Regions from separate parts of the Homo sapiens genome. Here regions 2, 3 and 4 are each reported to be linked to region 1. The links are microRNA targets in miRTarBase. Many come from high-throughput screens and were not tested one by one. Region 1 holds a microRNA gene; each other region holds the end of a gene's coding sequence.
What was found. The annotated mature microRNA hsa-miR-3135b reads GGCUGGAGCGAGUGCAGUGGUG and lies in region 1 at 964-985, shown strand. An mRNA with a match to its seed (bases 2 to 7 or 8) in the 3' UTR can be bound and repressed. Matches are read on the target gene's strand: a 7mer-m8 pairs with bases 2 to 8, a 7mer-A1 pairs with bases 2 to 7 and ends in A, and an 8mer does both.

Region 1 (3,153 bases):
GTTATTATTAGTTCCTGCATACACATTCTTTATAGTTGCATTCCTGAGAGGTTCTTACAGTCTTGGGCAGGCCTTGGACAGGGTTTCCTAAATGTGATAAAAATGAGAAAAACTGAAAAACTAACATAACTTCAAACAGAATGCTTGTCTGCCTATGTTTATGGGACTTTCCTGAATACATTTAAAAAAAAAACCTTTGTATTACAGAAAATTTCAACTGTGTGCAATAGTACAGAGAAGAATTCCATGTATCAACAGCCTTGCTTTAACAATAATCAATTCATGAGCAATTTTGTAAACCCACCCAGTTATCATACAGGCACATACTGGATTATTTTGAAGATATTTTTAGGTATCATATTTCATTTATACATTTTTATTATGAAAATCTAAAATATAATGGCTTTTTAGAAACATAACAGCAATGCCACTAACACATTTAAAACGAGATAAATAATTCCTTAATACACTCAGTGTCAATTTTTCTGATTGCCTCATATAAATTTTTTAACAGATGTTTTGTTTGAATATGAATCTAGACAAAGCTCAGCGTTTGGTTACTATATTTCTTCAGTCTTTTTCAAGTGTATAGCTTTTCTTTTCTCTATTTTTAACTTTTTTTGCAAATTGTTTGCTGGAGAAATCTTTTTATTTAATCTAGTAGAACTTCTCATATTCTGAATTTTGTTGCTTACATCCTTGTGGTGTCATTCATCATGGGATTTTGTCTTGGACTCCAGAAAATAACAATAACACAAATTTGTTAACTTCTATAAACTGCTTACTATGGGCCAGACTGTGTGTGAAGTGCTTTATTTGTAATGTTTAATTCTTCATATCTCTAGTTTGTATGTGGTAAGTACAAACCTGAAATATTTTACGTGATTTTTACGTTTTGTAATTTTTATTTATTTATTCATTTATTTATTTATTTTTAGAGACGGGGTCTCGCTGTGTTGCCCAGGCTGGAGCGAGTGCAGTGGTGCAGTCAGTCCTAGCTCACTGCAGCCTCGAACTCCTGGGCTCAAGCAGCAATCCTCCTGCCTCAGCCTCCCTACTAGCTGGGACTACAGACTGGTCTCCATCTCCTGGGCTTTAAGGGACCCTCACCTTGTGCTGAGATTACAGGCATGAACCATTGTGACTGGAAATTTTGTAAAATTTAAACAATGTGATATTACCTATTAATGAAGTCATACTTTATGTATGTAATCTGAAATAATTCAGATAACAATTTTTAAGAATCATTTAATTTAAAATCATGCAGCCTGATTTATAACTGTTTATAATAATAATATAATAATATAATAATGATGATTTCACTTTGAACTTTTAGCTGATAAAAAGATATATTTGCTCTATTTTATAAAACTAATTTTAGCTATGCTATTTTAACATTATATAAATACTTTTTGAATACATTCTTTCAGTAAAATCCAACTACCATTATATTTGCTTTCCTCAGTATTTCTTGGGGAAGGATTCTAAATAGGGGAGCATTTGTGTATTTCTGTATGACTCTGGTTATAATGCCATTCAATGTAAGCCTTACACACACACACACACACACACACACACACACACACACACAAATGCACACACCTCCAGAATGCTGGGTTCTTGGCTCATGAATCATTGAAATTTATATAAAATTTATTTTAAATCCTATTGCAGAAAAGTTCTTAGCACATTCATGCATTTTCATGTGACCATTTTTATACTACAGTTTTAATTTTATATATTTGGGATCATTATTGTTGACCTTTTCTTTTCTTTTTTTTTAATAGAGTTTATTTTAGAGAAGTTTTAGGTTCCCAGAAAAATTGTAGAGTACAGATAGATGTATCCCATATGCTCTCTGTTCCCACACATGCATAGCCTCCCCCACTAGTAACATCCTTCATGACAGAGGTACATTTGCTACAACTTATGAACTTACACTGACACATCATTATCACCCAAAGTCCATAGTTTATATTAAGGTTCATTCTTGGTGTTGTACATTCTATGGATTTGGGCAAGCGCATAATGATATTTATTCACCATTGTGGTATCAAATAGAGTAGTTTCATTGCCCTAAAAATCCTCTGTGTTCTGTGATGGACGTTTTCATGATCACCACTGGTTCAGATTCCCTGCACTTACTAATTCCCAGTCTGCATTTATAATTATTTTCTCCCGGAGTCTCCCCACCTCCTCCCCAAAGTAAATATGGATAAACTGCTGTTGCATATAATTCACCTTGACTTAAAATTTATGGGACATAAGGAGGGAATATACCCCTTAGAGAGTTAAAAACCGAAGTCAAATATTACAACTTCTTGTCCTAAGAGTTCTCTTAGCAACCCAATCTCAGCCTCTCAAGAAAGAAAAAAATCCTCCAGTTAACATATGAAAAGAAACTCACTTTTACGTCTACGCTTGAATCTCCTAAATCACTAAAGGGCTAAGGAAAACAAATGTACTTTTCATATAATATGATCCATTCTTTTTAATAAATCCATTATAAACATAACTGCAGTGTTTTCTTATATATTTATATACTACGTGTAAGGCACTGTCTATATACCAAGATTATTCAAATTCTGTCAATAACTCTGCAAGGAAAATATTATCACTCCCACATTGTGGATGAGAAAAATAAGGTTCAGAAATGTCAATCAGATACTTTACCCAGTAAAGTTTAAAATACTAGCTTCAAAATACTGAGTCAAGTATTTGGATTTAGGTTTCTTTGTACAAAACTATGCTGTATCAATTATTATGTTAATGTTTTGTCTCTTTTTTTTCTCCTATTACATTTTAAACTCACTGATGCAGATAGCATGGACAGAAATATCCTGGCAGATTTCATAGCTGTTTAGAGCTCTCAGGTCCCTGTGGACCCATTTCCTCTGAGAGATTTTCTATTAGGAGACCACGAATCCAGTGTAGGACACAGCACCCACTACTGCTGCTACATTGTCTCAACTGTCTTGTTCTTCCTAGGATTTCTCTCTCATAGGCTCATGCTTTCCTTAGCCAGGAAGGGGGAGGAGCAGGGGGCTGGGGCCCCTAAATGGGTCTGTAGCTTCTACTTCTATCTGTTTTCCATTGTCACTAACCCTAAGTAAGGAACAAGCATTTGTTCCTTTTCAGATACCCCCTTATATT
Region 2 (3,000 bases), not on the chromosome of region 1:
TGTAACTATTTTGATGTTGTAATTTTGTGAACCACCTAGTTACTAACTTTTACAGGCAAAATATTTTTCCAATGCTTTAAAAATCATTGTCTAATGAGACTCTTCCTTTACAGAGGCATATTTAAACCTGCAAAGTAATTTGTCCACATTATTGGTAATATGAACATTTTCAAATAGTAAAATAAATTCATATAATTTGCTTGGGTTTCATGCATATGAAATCTAATAAAAATACTTTTATGAATTAAAAAATTTGTTTTTCATATTAAGGTACAATATATACAGATTGACATAGTCAAATGACATTTATAATTCTATGAAAAATTAATAGTTATAGGTAATAAGATATAGACATTGTAGAAATCAAAGATAATAGAATGATGGTCAAATCCATCCAATTTAGATTTCAGACAGAAATTGGGTGGCTATTCTGTTGTATTTATGTGCTTAAAGACTTGCAAAATTTTTTCTTCATCTTTTATACATAAAAATATTATTTTCCTGCATTCATTAAAAATACAGAAGTAATGATTGTTTATATACTTAATGATATCCTTTTAAGTATGTAAGCACAAAAAGATAGGCTTATTTATTTATTTTAAAATAAAAAGAATGACAGTAGGATTGAGACTGCCATTTTTAAGTGAGGGGTTTTTAGTACATATGTGCCAGTTAATAATCCTCCTCACCTAAGAAAAATTTGAGTTACAGATATCTCTAAGAGTTTAAAAAAATACATCTCAGGTACTCTTTTTATATTATCCATTGCATCTCTGAGTTGTGTATATTCTCTTCTATAATATTAATTATTTTTATATATATAATTTTTGGAGATGGTGGTCTTGCTCTGTCGCCCAGGCTGGAGTGCAGTAGTGCGATCTCAGCTCACTGCAACCTCCGCCTCCTGGATTCAAGCGATTCTCCTGCCTTAGCTTCCTGGGTAGCTGGGACTACAGGTACACACCACCACACCCAGCTAATTTTTGTATTTTTAGTAGAGACAGGGTTTCACCATGTTGGCCAGGATGGTCTCCATCTACCGACCTCAAGATCTGCCCATCTCGGCCTCCTGAAGTGCTGGGATTACAGGCAATTTTTTTTTTTTAATAAAATGGAATTTAAGCCTGTAATGTCTTTTTAAGGAATCAAAAGTGGTCATGTGATAAATATGATACATAGATACATAATATATATTTTTTCCAGTTTTAAGAAGTTTTGTTAAGAAGGTTTTAAAAATATTTTAAATGCAACAAGTTTAAAGATAATAAAAGCCACAAGTATTCTAGTTATATGAGATTATTCTTTAGTCAAACAAAACCATCTATATTATAAATCTTGTGAAACAACTTGAGTATCAAAGTACTTCCAGTATGCATTAATTTAATAAGTTTCAAAGTCAGAATTCTAGTCCAACTGAAATATCTGTAGTCACATTATCAGGCTTTTCATAGCTTCACACTTTTAAACAACATTTTAAAAGTTAAATCAACATAATATATCCAAAAATTCAACCAATATCTATTTACAAACATTTACTTAAAACTAATTTTCATCAAATCAATTGTGGTTTTTGTTGGTTTGTTTTTTGAGACAGAGTTTCGCTCTTTGTTGCCCAGGCTGGAGTGCAGTGGTGCGATCTTGGCTCACTGGAACCTCTGCCTCCCAGGTTCAAGGGATTCTCCTGCCTCAGCTTCCCAAGTAACTGGGATTACAGGTGCCCGCCACCATGCCTGGCTAATTTTTGTATTTTTAGTGGAGACAGGGTTTTACCATGCTGGCCAGGCTGGTCATGAACTCCTGACCTCAGGTGATCCACCTGCCTTGGCCTGCCAAAGTGCTGAGATTACAGGTGTGAGCCACCGTGCCCGGCCAAATAAATTGTGTTTTAAATAAAGTTAACATAAATTGACTAGAGTATACTGTGTAAATTATTGTACACATTAATCAAAACTAATATCCATGCATGCTGAATCTCTTAAAATAGTCACTTTATCACCTAATGCAAGTTTTCATATATATATTCGACTGCATTTTGTGATTTTTACCCGCCAATTTTTTTCAAGCCTATATAACTTACACCTTTACAATGGGACAGTTAAACTTCAGATAAAAAAACTGGTAACATTTTCTTTTTTTTAAAAGTATTTTGAATGTGTATCCATTTATTAATATTTACTAAACTTATAACTGAAAACTTTTATTAAAACAGCTAACGTTAGTGGTTTACTATGCATTTTATAAAGGAGAACGTAAGTGTTTGTTAAGTTGAAGATCACTGTGCACACCTTACATTTCAACATTTCAAGATATTCAATCATTCAAATATCCATTAAGTACTTACTGTATGTCTAGCACTATTCTAGGTGTTGCACAATTTAATATGTTTCAATATTTCAACCATATGATATTTTGGTATCTTTTATGCTGTGTGAAACTTTTATATGCTTTTTAGATTATTCAGTCCTTTATAATTTAAATGTTTCCTCCTTCCCAAACGTAGCTATTACTGTTTATAAAGGAGGCACCTATTTTTCCTTTAAATTATATATATATATATATTTTGAAGTTAATGACTAAAATTCACTGCTATTTCCCACCTCTCCCAACCTGCAATCCTTCTCCCAACCTCTGGCACTTGAGCAACAAAGATTAAGGTAATGCTAACCCATGAAAGTTTTTCTTTAAAAAAAAAAATCAAGCATGGACAAAAATCTTCTATCAGAATGGATTGAGTCGTATTCCAGTCCCTAAAGGTGAGAATGGATTCACCTTTGCCCACATCAAAGCATCATTCAAGGAGATAGCAGATTTCCCGTCTTCAAGGAAAAACACAGGGCCCTGCACAGTGAGAGTTGAGGAAAGAGAAGATGAGATTATAAATTTGCAAAGTATTTTTAAACTTTCAGAAAGAGAATCACTGCAATAAAAAAAAACATAATATTTAGGCAAAGCTAATAAAAAAATGAAGACTATGAGAAAATTAGTTTTTTTGAGCTGGAC
Region 3 (3,000 bases), not on the chromosome of region 1:
ACTATAGAGGATACCAGGCTGGGTGCCGTGGCTCACGCCTGTAATCCCACCACTTTGGGAGGCTGAGTTGGGTGGATCACTTGAGGTGAGGAGTTCGAGACCAGCCTGGCCAACATGGTGAAACCCCGTCTCTGCTAAAAATACAAAAATTAGCTGGACTTGGTGGTGGGTGCCTGTAGTCCCAGCTACTTGGGAGGCTGAGGCAAGAGAATCACTTGAACCCAGCAGGCAGAAGCTGCAGTGAGCCGAGATTGTGCACTGCACTCCAGCCTGGGCAACGGAGCAACACTCCATCTCAAAAAAAAAAAAAACAAAAAAACAAAAAAAAAGCACCAAAAAACTATAAAGGTTTTTGGTTATGTAGATTATAGCTAGCAATATTTATCATATTTATAATAAAAACCAAGACTTTTTAAAAAATATCATTTATTCTTTTATAAACAATAGCAATAAATTTATTATATGTTAACAGCAGAGTGATGACATCATCACGTATCACATAGCTTCTGGAAAATTCCACCATACACTTTTGAGAGAAGGACAGATAAATGGTCGATAACATCTTAGTATTATCATGGAAAAGTTTTGATCTTATAGACCCCTCAACACCCAAAAGTCGTAATCAGTTCTACTCAAGTAAGATTTAAATATATATCTATATTTTCTGGTCTGAGATTCTTTTCAACTTTACTCAGAAAACATATACCTGAAGGGGGAGGGGGAGAGTGCACAGATGAGTCTGTTTGTATGTGGTTGGTCACAGAAATGACAGAAAATAGTTATTTAATCTGAATCTGGACCCTGCTGAAAACTGCCGTGATTTCTCATAACACTCTCCTGCCCCTTCAGAAGTGAAAACTGGCTGATAGTTTCCCAAATGAATAATTTTCGTTAATGTTAATCGTGTGATGTTGTTGAGCTAGAATGTTGACTCAACTGATTCGTGAGGGGAGATCTTGCACCAGATATGGAACCAGGACTTCCACCGAAATCTTAGCTCTGGAAGTTGATTTTTTTCGTGGGAGTTGAGAGTGGGTGGGCGTGCAGAGCAATAACACAATGGTTCTCAAAGTGTGTTCCTGGAATAGTAGCAGCAGCAACAGCACCTGGGAATTGTTAGACACACAAAACATTTGGCTCTATTCCAGACCAACAACTCAGAGACTCTGAAGATGGGCCCAGCGAACTCTTTTAACAAGGCCTCCCGGTGATTCTAATATGCTGAACTTTTTGATAATGTTCAAGGACTGCTGGTATGCTCATCTTGTCTTTTTTTCCTTAAAGACAGGATCTTGCTCTGTTGCCCAGGCTGGAGTGCAGTGGTGCCATCATGACTGACTGCAGCCTCGAACTCCTGGGCTCAAGCAATCCTCCTGCCTCAGCCTCCTGAGTGGCTAGGACTACAGGCGTATGCCACCACATCCAGCCAATTTCTAATTTTTTGTAGGGATGTGTCTTGCTATGCTGCCCAGGCTGGTCTCAAACTCCTGGCCTCAAGAGATGCTCCCGCCTTGGTCTCCTAGGGAGCTGGGGTTATAGGCCTGAGCCACCGTGCCAGGCCTGATGCGCTCTTTTCCGTGGTTACGTTCTACCAGTGTGACCTCCATCCCTTCTCCCTCTTCACTTCCTTCTTTCTTTCCTTCCTTGCATAAACATTGAATGTACGGATCCCTTTTTGGTGTTTTTAGACACTTCTCAGGAAACGTACGCATTGATTTGCACCTTGTGTGTCCACCTGTAAACATCAAATTAGTGCAGGCCAAATTCAGGGTATCATTCATAGCAATCCCAAAGAAACTAACTCTTAAAGAGGCCAATTAGTAACGCACAGGTAAAACTTTGCTAAGTATGATTCTCTGCCTGGGACCTCATTCATCCTTCTGTTCCTGACATTGCCTCATGGGTTTGGCTGCCCCGTTTTGAAGTTACCCAAAGATTATTCTGCCATGGCCTCTGTTTTTTAGAAATTCAAGACTGAAGGCTCAGTAGAAGGGGGTTAGCTTAGAGGATTGAGCCAAGGGTAAAATGATTTCTGGGTAGCAGCCCAGAGTTCTTGAAGGATGTTTATTAGGCAACGTGAACGGGAGAATCAGCAGTCAGAAGCGGCTGAGAAAGGAACCACGCAGACAATGTCCAGTTGTATAGGGTAGAGTGTGTGTGTTGTGTATTTACGTTAGTGCTGGGGCTTTCCTTGGGACTCCTGAACTGGGAAGTTGGAATGAGATGAATGTAAACCTACTTTTCTTTATACTACATATAGGGTGGAGAGAGTTCCATACCATTCATGCTTTAATGAACACATATACATGAAAATAAGATGGAGAGTTCTAGTGGTTTTGCCCTTCCTCTTCAACGGCGAAATTGCTATTTAGAAGTGGGTAGCGCTCGCTCTCTGATGGGACTGAGCTGGCATAGAGACAAGGTTGCCACTGCCCCGTGTCCTGTGATGTGACTTCAGAGCTTCCAAAACGCAGGCAAGCACAACGGATGTCTCCTGGGCGACCATTTAGCACCTTTGATTTCACTTGGGCTTCATGACTTCTGTTGTCTGTTCCCGGCTTCTTACCAAGAAATTCTTGTTCTTTTGGTTTTCTAGATTGTTCTTCTACTCTTCCTCCTGTAGTGGTGTAACAAAGTCACGGTCATATGTGTAACACGGCACCAAAAAAATGTGGTCCTCACTCTAAACCAGTGCACACGCCACCATGCCTGGCTAATTTTTGTATTTTTAGTAGAGATGGGGTTTTGCTATGTTGGCCAGGCTGGTCTCGAACTCCTGACCTTGTGATCTGCCTGCCTCGGCCTTCCAAAGTGCTGGGATTACAGGTGTGAGCCACTGTGCCTGGCCTAAGTTTTTATATGGCAGACAATAGCTGTGGAACAGGAATAATAAACAGCAACTAACTGTGCTAAATGATGTGCATGCAGTAAAGCACTTGGTTTCTAGCCAGCACTGTGCTATAGAACTTTCTGAGATGATGGAAATCTTTTGCAGTTGTG
Region 4 (3,000 bases), not on the chromosome of region 1:
TGAGGATAGTGCATTTTGTACATAATTCTTCTACTCATCATTACTTCTCTCACTATTCATAATAAATTCATGTATTTTCTCCTTATAGGCAGGAATAATATATTTTTAACTGTTTTTCTTCTACTGGAAACCTCTGGACCCAATTAGCTTCTATTGATAGTGATTCTTCCATTAATATCTTTGACAGAGAAAATCCATGGTGTATAATTCTTATTTCCAGAGCTTGGGTTGTCTTAGAAAGTAGCTTCTTGGGATTATGTTTGATAATAATTGCTGTGATGATCATGATTAACCAGAACATCTGAGGTCAACTCATCAGTATAAAGCCTTTCTGTAAATGCTTTACAGAAGCATTGGACAGCGATTAGATTGAGGAAAAGATCAGATATGGTTGAGTTTTGTCTTCTTTGGAGTCCTTATTATTAGTACCTGAGTGCTTCACTGCCATCTAGCTGTGTGGAGGTGGAAGAAAACTGCATCTGATCCCATGGCAGGAAACTATGTGTTTGTGGAGATGAAAGAGAAGAGAAACTATAACTTGATGAAATGTTTATTGCCAATTTTTATGAAGTACAATTTTCTGGATCCTATATCCAGAAGGCCATGACAATAAATTTAAATATAATTGTACAGAATTCCAGTAGTGACACAAAAAGATGCAAATATTCTGAATATTCATGTGGGAAACTATGACAACATTCTTTGTTCAGGATGGGATGTGTTATAATGTTTCTAGAGACGTTTTGGCTCCTAAACCACGTCATTTAGCTCCTTGGATAGGTTTGTCAATAATTAATTAAAACAAAATCTGGAAAATCCAAATTTTGAAATTCGGAAATTTTTTTAAAACCTAATTTTATTCCCAACCACACAAATCTCTCTTTATTATATAGTTCTGAATATAGCCCCAAATGGTGTTTATCTTTTTCTTCCATTCACTATTTTCTTTCTTTCTTTTTTTCAAGGTGGAGTCTTGCTCAGTCACCCAGGCTGGAGTGCAGTGGTGCGATCTCGGCTCACTGCAACCTCTGCCTCCCGGGTTCAACCAATTCTCCTGCCTCAGCCTCCTGAGTAGCTAGGATTACAGGTGCCCGCTACTGCACCCAGCTAATTTTTGTATTTTTAGTAGAGACGGGATTTCACTATGTTGGCCAGGCTGGTCTCGAACTCCTGACTTCGTGATCCACCCATCTTGGCCTCCCAAAGTGCTGGGATTACAGGCGTGAGCCACCGCGCCCGGCCTCATTCACTATTTTCTAACCAAGGAGTTCAATGAATGTGGAGCCTTACAAAAACACCTGGCACCAAACAAAAGTAATATAGTACAGAACTATAGTTAAAATGAAAGAACAGACATATACCCTTACTACCAAAAGAGGAGATCATGTTAAATACCTTAATTTCATGTATGTGTCTCATTTCTTCTCTGGGTTAGTTCTTATCTTGGGCTAGTTTATGTTGGCTTCTTATTCAAAGTAATAACTCCTTTGTTCTTGGACATATTCATAGAGTGGGGTGTTGCTATCTAAGCAGAAGGAACCAGAGCCTGTTCTTTCCTTTGTATGGTAACCGCTGGCCTCAGAGCCTCTTTGTTTTTTGCCCACATCCTCACCGTATATTCTGATACCTCCTGACAGACTTGACTCTGACTCTTGCCTTTGTCTCCCCCACTGCATATGGTTGCACTGCTTGATGAATATCTATACCTATACTCTTCAATTCCTGCAGGGTCTTGGCTGTCAAGAAAGTGACTGAAAATGTATCTTTGACTTTTGCTGTCATTTGACTACTCATAACTATCATTTGATTGGCCATGGCTGTATACTTGTCTTTCATTGGTACTGAATCCAGACTGACCCTAGGCATCTCTTGATGGCCCATGACTTAATACCTATCTGGCAAAACCTGTGCTGGATCTTACCTGCCCATGAAAAGTTGTATCTCCGAAATGTTGCTGGCTAGATCCATGTATACCTATTGTATTGAACTCTAACTTCCCATGCCTAGATCCTAATTGCTCATGAGTGTCTTTCTCCCAATCTTCTGAATGCTTTTTGTTATCAGTATGGGATTCCTGTTTTCTGATTGAACTAGATTTTGAATGGCCATGAACTGATATGGATTGTCCATGGCCAAATCCAAGGTGGTCATTTGACTGGCTATGTGTACATCCCTCCCTTCTGGCTGTGTTATATCCAGGTTGAACATAGGTGTTGTTTGACTGTTTATGAGTTACTATAGAATGTCCATGACTAGATTCCTGACTTCTTATAATAATAGGTCGAGACTGATACTGAGAATCAACTGAATGTTCATAACTTACCATTGACTGTTCATGATTTAAACTGTGTCTTCCTGTTCTTTTAGTTGCTTTGGATACTATAAGGTCAGAACTAGAAAATAACTGTCAATGTCTAGACAGTTGCTTGTTTGCAGTGCTGTCTGTTGACCATGAAAGGTGAGAATTACTGATGCTTTTTCTGCTGCCACCAGAAGGCCCATACCCAGTGTGCCCATAGTCATATTCTGCAGGTCCATAGCTGCCATGTTTCCAAACCTGACTTGATCCATGCCTTTGCCTTTCACTACTATGTGACTGAAAATGACTTGCTCTACTAGATCTGGAACCTGTCTGTGTGGATTGTCCATAACCAGAATGGCCATGTCTAGTGGTATCTCCTGTCTGTCCATGAGTAGTTTCCAGTCTCCCATGAACTGTGGATCCTGGCTGTCTTTGTTGAGATCCAGCTTGGCCCTGAATGTGTCCTGAATGTGTGTGTGAGCCCCATGAGTGCACTTCACTGTCACTGGACTCACTGTGGCCAGATCCCCTTCTTCCAGTTGTCCTGGACCCTCTCTGTGTGGATTGTCCATAACCATAGTGGGCATGTCTAGTGGTATCTCCTGTCTGTCCATGAGTAGTTCCCTGTCTCCCATGACCTGAGGATCCTGACTGTCCATGTCGAGATCCGGCTTGGCTGTGAGTGTGTCCTGAATGTG

Region 2: miRTarBase lists WDR17 as a target of hsa-miR-3135b. Seed matches in the 3' UTR shown: 7mer-m8 at 1,617-1,623 and 7mer-m8 at 859-865.
Region 3: miRTarBase lists IL2RA as a target of hsa-miR-3135b. Seed matches in the 3' UTR shown: 7mer-m8 at 1,309-1,315.
Region 4: the mRNA of FLG2 is a reported target of hsa-miR-3135b. Seed matches in the 3' UTR shown: 7mer-A1 at 1,909-1,915 and 7mer-m8 at 990-996.

What each region holds. Positions count from the first base shown.
Region 1 is chr6:32,747,784-32,750,936 of GRCh38, reverse strand. MIR3135B (microRNA 3135b) reads left to right here and starts at 958; the gene lies at 958-1,025.
Region 2 is chr4:176,179,298-176,182,297 of GRCh38, reverse strand. It overlaps WDR17 (WD repeat domain 17), which reads right to left. Exons shown (of 29, transcript NM_181265.4): 29 at 1-2,838. The coding sequence ends at 2,719. Among named protein-coding and RNA genes, the nearest start is that of SPATA4, 15 kb to the left of the region's middle.
Region 3 is chr10:6,010,280-6,013,279 of GRCh38, forward strand. It overlaps IL2RA (interleukin 2 receptor subunit alpha), which reads right to left. Exons shown (of 8, transcript NM_000417.3): 8 at 410-2,617. The coding sequence ends at 2,593. Among named protein-coding and RNA genes, the nearest start is that of IL2RA-AS1, 24 kb to the right of the region's middle.
Region 4 is chr1:152,348,203-152,351,202 of GRCh38, forward strand. FLG2 (filaggrin 2) reads right to left here. Exons shown (of 3, transcript NM_001014342.3): 3 at 533-3,000. The coding sequence ends at 2,408. The region is part of intron 7 of CCDST (cervical cancer associated DHX9 suppressive transcript); the gene reads left to right. Among named protein-coding and RNA genes, the nearest start is that of FLG2, 10 kb to the right of the region's middle.